2 linked regions of the Homo sapiens genome follow. The protein of the gene in region 2 interacts with the protein of the main gene of each other region in a biochemical or structural test. Each region holds a gene or a part of one and is shown on either strand. Other genes may lie near its edges. The genes, in order: POLI and DHRS12.

What was found.
Region 1: the proteins of DHRS12 (region 2) and POLI form a complex in vitro, tested with the Homo sapiens proteins (one large-scale study listed by BioGRID).

What each region holds. Positions count from the first base shown.
Region 1 is NC_000018.10:54,289,800-54,293,620, forward strand, and holds part of POLI (DNA polymerase iota isoform a (long)), read left to right. Parts: intron 1-2,033; coding exon 2,034-2,239; intron 2,240-3,821. UniProt on the Homo sapiens protein: Error-prone DNA polymerase specifically involved in DNA repair. Plays an important role in translesion synthesis, where the normal high-fidelity DNA polymerases cannot proceed and DNA synthesis stalls. Favors Hoogsteen base-pairing in the active site.
Region 2 is NC_000013.11:51,801,952-51,805,872, reverse strand, and holds the start of DHRS12 (dehydrogenase/reductase SDR family member 12), read left to right. Parts: upstream 1-1,709; 5' UTR 1,710-1,763; coding exon of another isoform or gene 1,764-1,819; exon of another isoform or gene 1,820-2,037; intron 2,038-2,137; exon of another isoform or gene 2,138-2,330; intron 2,331-3,921. UniProt on the Homo sapiens protein: Putative oxidoreductase.

The sequences.
Region 1 (3,821 bases), on a different chromosome or scaffold from region 2:
TTCCTTACACCTTATACAAAAGTTAACTCAAGATGGATTAAAGACTTAAATGTTAGAACTGAAATCATAAAAACCCTAGAAGAAAACCTAGGCAATAGCATTTAGTACATAAGCATGGGCAAAGACCTCATGACTAAAACACCAAAAGCAATGGCAACAAAAGCCAAAATTGACAGATGGGACCTAATTAAACTAAAGAGCTTCTGCACAGCAAAAGAAACTATCAGCAGAGTGAACAGGCAACCTACAGAATGGGAGAAAATTTTTGCAATCTACCCATCTGACAAAGGGCTAATATCCAGAATCTACAAAGAAGTTAAACAAATTTACAAGAAAAAAGCAAACAACCCCATCAAAAAGTGGGCAAAGGATATGAACAGACACTTTTCAAAAGAAGACATTTATGCTGCCAACAGACATATGAAAAAATGCTCATCATTGCTGGTCATTAGAGAAATACAAATCAAAACCACAATGAGATACCAGCTCATGCCAGTTAGAATGGCGATCATTAAAAAGTCAGGAAACAACAGATGCTGGAGAGGATGTGGAGAAATAGGAACACTTTTACACTGTTGGTGGGAGTGTAAATTAGTTCAACCATTGTGGATGACAGTGTGGTGATTCCTCAAGGATCTAGAACTAGAAATACCATTTGACCCAGTGATCCCATTACTGGGTATATACCCAAAAGATTATAAATCATGCTACTATAAAGACACATGCACGCGTATGTTTATTGTGGCACTATTCACAATAGCAAAGACTTGGAACCAACCCAAATGTCCATCAGTAATAGACTGGATAAAGAAAACGTGTCACATATACATCATGGAATACTATGCAGCCATAAAAAAGGATGAGTTCATGTCCTTTGCAAGGACATGGATGAAGCTGGAAACCATCATTCTCAGCAAACTATCACCAGGATAGAAAACCACACACCACATGTTCTCACTCATAAGTGGGAGTTGAACAACGAGGACACATGGACACAGGGAGGAGAACATCACACACCGGGGCCTATCTGGATGGAGGGCTGAGGGAGGGATAGCATTAGGAGAAATACCTAATGTAAATGAAGAGTTGATAGGTGTAGCAAACTAACACGGTACATGTATACCTATGTAACAAATCTGCACATTGTGCACATGAACCCCAGAACTTAAAGTATAAAAGAAAAAAAATTAGGCCATTTTCAAGTTTTTCTTGAATTTTAATTTCTGCTAGGCCCTCTTTATCTCCCCATGATGTGCATGTAGCCCTTTCAGTAAGGAGTGTATGGGGAGCTTGGGCCCTCTGTGGCCTTCCATTTATTTGCATGTAGCCTCCTAGTCAACTAGGGTTGTACGGGGAGCCTATGTAGTCCCTCTTTGGTTCTCTCATTTCCAAATCTCCTGGTGACATATCTGGCTGGTCCACTGATCTGTCCTTCACCCGAACCACGACTGAAGCTTCAGACTAGCAGAGCTGTGGGATCTTCCCATTCGTTTCCTATCAAATTTGCTCATTTTACTGGCAACACTGCTGAGTGTGGGCTTTTGCCCACTGCCTCAAATCAGGTCTGTCCCCTCTGGAAGTGAAACTGCTGGCTTTTGCAGCCTTCACCCTGTACCAACTGAGCTATGTAAAGGGACATTCGAACAGTCCCAGACAGTGAAGCTGCTATCTCCTACTTTCTTAGCTAACATATAGCAGCTGTTCATAGATCAGTACTTCTCACTTTGTTTGCCTTTGGTTCATTTCCAGATTTCCACCAAAATGATTGTTTTTGACAATGTTGTTCAGTTTTATAGTAGCTTTTTGAGAGAGGATTTTCTGACCATATCAGTGTAGTATAACCAGAAATCCCATATTTCAAATCTTTTGAAAATTTTTAACCATTTAGTATTAATATTGAAATGTCTTAATTTGGTATATAATGTCAAGATGCCCAGTGATATTTAGGATTTTAATTTCTTAATCTCAGCAATATAAAATATATTATGCTCTTAATATTAATTATAATGTTTATTCTTAAACATTTTATTTAGGAAATTATGATGTGATGACCCCAATGGTTGATATACTTATGAAACTTTTTCGAAATATGGTGAATGTGAAGATGCCATTTCACCTTACCCTTCTAAGTGTGTGCTTCTGCAACCTTAAAGCACTAAATACTGCTAAGAAAGGGCTTATTGATTATTATTTAATGCCATCATTATCAACTACTTCACGCTCTGGCAAGCACAGTTTTGTAAGTACACTCTTTTTTGTTCAGTTTTCTAAGTATACTCTTATGGGATTTGTGTGGTTACATTACAAATCTAAGTGCTTGTCTTTTTGATATAGTTTAGAGATTCTTTTGGGTGATATTGTTTAGGTGATTAACTTGTTTATAATACCTATCTTATGGTTTCTGGCCTTAAATATGCTGTGATCTAAGAAGAAAACATAAGCATCACTGGATAAAAGAGAGAACCATTATGGAGGTTCTCTATTTTGGAATTGTTAACACATTTTATAGTATATAAAAATATGATGGATTAGCTCATAAGTATTAAAATATTTGCAGATATTAGAAATCACATCTTTTTGTCTTTTAGCTGACACATGAGCTACTAGTACCTTTCCCATGATTCTTTTGTTAAAGTATTTACATTTTCTTCATTTTGAAATAGTATTGAATTTTGATAGCAATATTGATAGATTTGACTACTGATTTCATAGTTGTAAAGTTAACAGTGTGGCAATAGAAAGGCAGAGGCCAGTCACATTTTCAGACGACTAAAACAAAACCCTTTTATTAATAGACAAACCACTATTTAGTAAATGTGGGTTGCCTTAAAAACAATTATTTTTTACTAAATTGTTCATGCCTATAATTAACTCAATTTAAAATACTTTTGTGTTTGTTTAGTCAGTATAATTTTAGTAACCTTTTCATTTTCATTTAAGTTTAAAGTGAGAACAGGATAGTGTATGGAAATAGTGAATTAATGCTCTCTTCAAATTACTTTTTTCTGTGACCCTTCTTATTCCATTTATTAAATTTAAAAAAGTGTTTTCTTTTTACATTTTAATTAATCTGTGAAATTGGAATTAAAAGTGCTCATTTATAGTGGCATTAGAAAAGTAAATATAAGTGAAAGTACCTTGTATGTATTTGTCACACAGTAGGTAGTCAATAAATATAAGGGCCTGAATCTTTTCTACTACTTTTACTTTTTTGGAGTTCATATTGTGTTGATGTTTACGGAGTTATATTTGACTATGTTTATATTTTTATGGTGCTTGAAACTAAAGGATTTAAATGAAAAACTGTATAGAAAAATTATGCAAGTTAGAGTTGAAAGTGTCTTTAAATTTTTATTTTATATAAATATAAACTAGTACTATATCTTGATGATGTTGGGTTTTGTTATAGGCTTTTTTTTTCTTTTTGTTAAAAGTTACCCTTTAGAATAGTAATTTTTGGAAAACTAGCCCTTGATGCTATATGTGTATGTTTTTTTGAAAAATACCCTTAGGTGAACTTGCTTTTCTAGGCCGCCATTCTTTTATTTATAGAATTGAAAGTTTGGTTGCATGATTGTTACAATCTTCCCAGGTCTCCAAATGCATATTTACCTCTGTCTCAGTGCTATCTAGGAAGGAAACCTCTTCCTGGAATAGTGGGTAGAGATTCACAAAATAGTGTGAATAATTGTGGTAGTAGATCTCTAGTTGTTTGGAACTGGCCACAAAGAGTTGTATTTGTTGAGTAGGTTAGAAACATGTCAGATAATAGCTACAGGCACACAGCAGCAGCAGCGATATTTAAAAGATATCAGATATGT
Region 2 (3,921 bases):
AGAGTGGAAGCTCATTTTGAGACAGGGTTTGGCTTTTCCTAAGACCTCCTCTTTAAATGTATATAATGTATACACTAACTACCTCGTGGATGCTTGATTTGAGGCTAACACTGGACACCTCATGCCCTCATGGAAATTTCTTGAATGTACACTGCATGGCTGTAAGCGCAGGGGAAAAAGGAATGAGAAGAAAACTTAAGGAGGGAAACCAACACTTCTGATCACTTTGTATGAAACTAAGCTCTTTATAATGAATGCCTTTAATCACAACCACCCCACGAGGTGCGCATATTCATTCCCATTTTACATATTAAGAAACCAAGACTGAGGGTGTATGCAGCATGCTCAGGTTCACCTGGCTAATGCAGAGAGCTGGGTTTGCAGCCACACTTTTACTTCAAGGGGCTGCTGACACCCTCCAAGAGACTTGGTGGTTCAAAACTATTTCTCATCCCCTCTCTGCGAGCCAAAAGCCTATTTCCTGAGGTGTTCAGAGAGATTCAGAGCAGATTGACACCTTTTCCATCACTGACACAAAGAGGAGGGTATAAAAAACAGTATGTAGCCCTGGGGATCTAAAATATTTTCCCAGCCAAATCGGACAGGCATTGAAAGTCACACAGGCTGGGGTGGTTTTACAAAATGCCACTTGTTTAAATTTCCTTTCATCACTCTGTCAGGAATAACAGCAACGTAGTGGAGCCTCAGAGTCCTGTTGAGAGGGGCGAGCTGTTCCGGGGAAATTTATTTCAAAAGTTATTCTGAAGTAAAAACTTGCCCACTGTGGAGTGAGGTTGGACAGTGATCCTATATCCTAGGTAATGAGGCTATTAAAGCAGCTGGTCTCTTCAGCTTATGTAAGTGGGGCCCAGTCTCTGGGCGACTTGGGTAAACCGGTATAGAATTTAACAGGGTGACTAGGAGTGACAGCAGCAGTAAGACCCCCATTTCTAATGTGGCGTTAGGGCTGGAGGTTAGATGTGGACAGGGGTGTCTGAGTCCTACATAATGGGGCTGGATGACTAGTCTGAGATCTGGGTTCACGCAGCAACCACACTCTTTTTTACTCACACTGTTCATCTGGGCTTGGGTGGAAAGAGGCTGATGAGGATTTGGGGGAAATCAAGGGGCTCTCCCTGGCATTGCATGAAGTCGCAGAACCAGTGGCAAAAGTCCAACTTTGGAGACAATTACTTCTCGGGTGGGAGCCCCAGCCCTGCCTCTTGCCTGCGATGTCGCCAATCTGACTGCGCTTGCTGGAGACGGGAAATGTGGCACGGCACTGCATCCCCCAACACGTGTAGAAACTTAGAGAATGCCAGTTATTAAAATAACCCTTATGATAACACCAATTCGATGCAGAAGTCTTTTAAATATCATAAGCCTCGTCGTTTTATTCCACATGGTTTTCTAGGTAACCAAATTCTAGGAGGTGCGTTGCAGGGCCATCTTCGCATCCCGGCCATGCCCAGCAGGACGGTGTTCTCTAAACGGCGCTGATGCCCGATTTCGACCCCGAGGAGACTGCGGACCTCGACTGCGGCCCCCACCAGGGCCGGTCCGCCCTCACTCCACCCTCTGAGGCTGGGGCGGAGTCGACCGGCCGGCCCCGAGACCCCTTGCCTTACCGGTGGAGCAAGGAACCGGAAGCCGCGGCTCTTACATAACCGGGATGATGTCAGGGCGGGCGACTCCCGGGGGGCGGGACCAGGGCGGAGGCCGCGCCGGGAGCGCGGTGGGGCTAGGCGTGGGGCGCTCCCGGCATGTCCCTGTACCGCAGCGTCGTGTGGTTCGCCAAGGGGCTGCGCGAGTACACCAAGTAAGGCGGCGCGGCGGGGCGCGGGGCCCCGGGCTGTCACGTGGCCCGCCTCGGCGCGGGCGAGCAGGGTTGGCGGGGACGCGCCCGCGGCTCCTTCGCCCTCTCGCTGGGCCGACTAAGCGTGTCCAGAACGACGGGTGCGCCCGCCGTCTAGCGACCCACGGCTGGGCGTGGGGCAGTCGCCAGACTCCAGCCGCTCAATGCCCGCGACCGAGACTGGCGCCCGAGGGGCGGGGCTGTGGCGCGCCCAAGCCCAGGGCCGTCCCACTGACGTCAGGCGGCCCCGGCGCCAAGGAGCCTCTTGGGCGGCACCTCGGCGCCCCGCTGGGTGTGCTCGTGGAAGTGTCTTCGTGGTGCTGCTGGCGGCGTCAGATAGGGCTGGATCTAAATCGCTAGCTAAGGCTCTGTCCTAGTGCCTTTGGGTGTGTTTCCTTTAAAAAGATGCAGCACCTGGACTGCGACCTTTGGCTCCAGCTGGAACTTTCCAGCCAGTGTGTGCTTCTGGGGAACGGTGCGTGGTGGTTTCGTCGCCCCGTGACCACGCTCAGTGTGCCCTAGTTGGCTCTCCACCTCATTGTGGTTTTAAGAGGTGACAGGTTCCTGTGACGGAGGAGAGATGGAGGTTTTCTCTTAGAATTGATTAGGCTAACCGCTGGTTCTCAACCCTGTCTGCACATCAGAATCACTGGGCGAGAATTAAAAGTACCCAGTTTTCAGGCCCCATCCCTACAGATTCTGATTTAGTGGATCTGCACAGGGGCCTGGACTGGCATTTCATCCAAATGCCCCAGGTGATTCTCACCTCTGAGAGGCTTCTCCCTGCACTGGGGCTTTATCAGTTCCCACGGCAACCTGGCCAGCACTCCTAGGGGAGGTAGGAGTTGCAACTCCCTGCTCTTCACCCCACATCGTTTTGGAGAAGGTTCAGCTCTGTCTCAGGAGCCCCTGCTGCAGAGAATGGTGGGGAGTGTAGTCGTGAGCCCTGTCCCACAGTTTTTAGGGGAATACAGTGGCAGCCTCTTTCTTTCAAAGGGGTGTCCTCTGGCAATGACCATTAATTGCTGGATCTTTCCACATTACACAGCATGAAAGCTTAAGTCAGTTTCCAACCAGGGGTGGGCCCCAAGGAAAGCAGACTGTAAAAATTTCTCCCAGGACTCTTTCGCTCTGATTTCCCCACCTTGAGGGAAGGTAGAAGTGAGGCCAAGGGGCCCAATCCACCACAGATTGGTGGGGGAAGGGAGGGGAGGGGAAGGCAGTTGGCAAAGTTAGATGGGTTTTCCTGCTGTTGTGGATTTAGTGAATAGGAGAGAAAAACAACAACCTTGTTTTGACTTCAGTGTGAGAGCGCGGAGTTAGAGTTTACAACGTTTCTCTTGGCACAAGGATTTTTATAAAGCCTCCCTATATTGGGCTCCTAAGGCAGGAGGATCTAATCACTGTTTCCTAAACTTTGCTGAACCTAATAATTCCCTGGGGCAGTTTTAAACAGACTCCTAAACCCTGGGCAAGTGTGGATGGGTCCTAAGCAAATTTCATATTTGGGTAAATTGAGGGTGTGGGGAGACACAGATACCTGCCAGCTTCCTCCTCCCCATCCCTGTCACCTCAGCTTCAGGAAACAGTAAGTACAAATGTCCTCTCAGCTTGAGTCAAAATCACTGGCAAGGCACATGAAACCACAGGTTGCCAAGCAATCACTTCTGAGTCAGTAGGCAGGGCATTTCCAACAGGTTTCCAGATGATGCTGATGCAGCTTGTCTGGGGACTGCCCTTTGGCACCGAGGCTGGGTGTTGAAGAAGATCACCTACCTTCTGGTGACCTTGGGAAAGTCGTGTGTGTGTGTGTGTGTGTGTGTGTGTGTGTGTGTGTGTGTGTGTGTGAAAAATAGAGACTGATATCTAGAGACTGATTTCTAGAGTGAAAATAAAATGCTTCCCCAATAAGGGGCAGAGTACATAAAAGACAAGTCTTATTAACAACAGATCGGACCAGGATGGAATTCTTGTATGGAAGGCAAGATCCAAGGCAGAGGACAGAGGGCGGGGACATGTCCTGCAGGCCAGGCTGGTACTGCCCGCTTGGCAGCACTCCCAGTCTG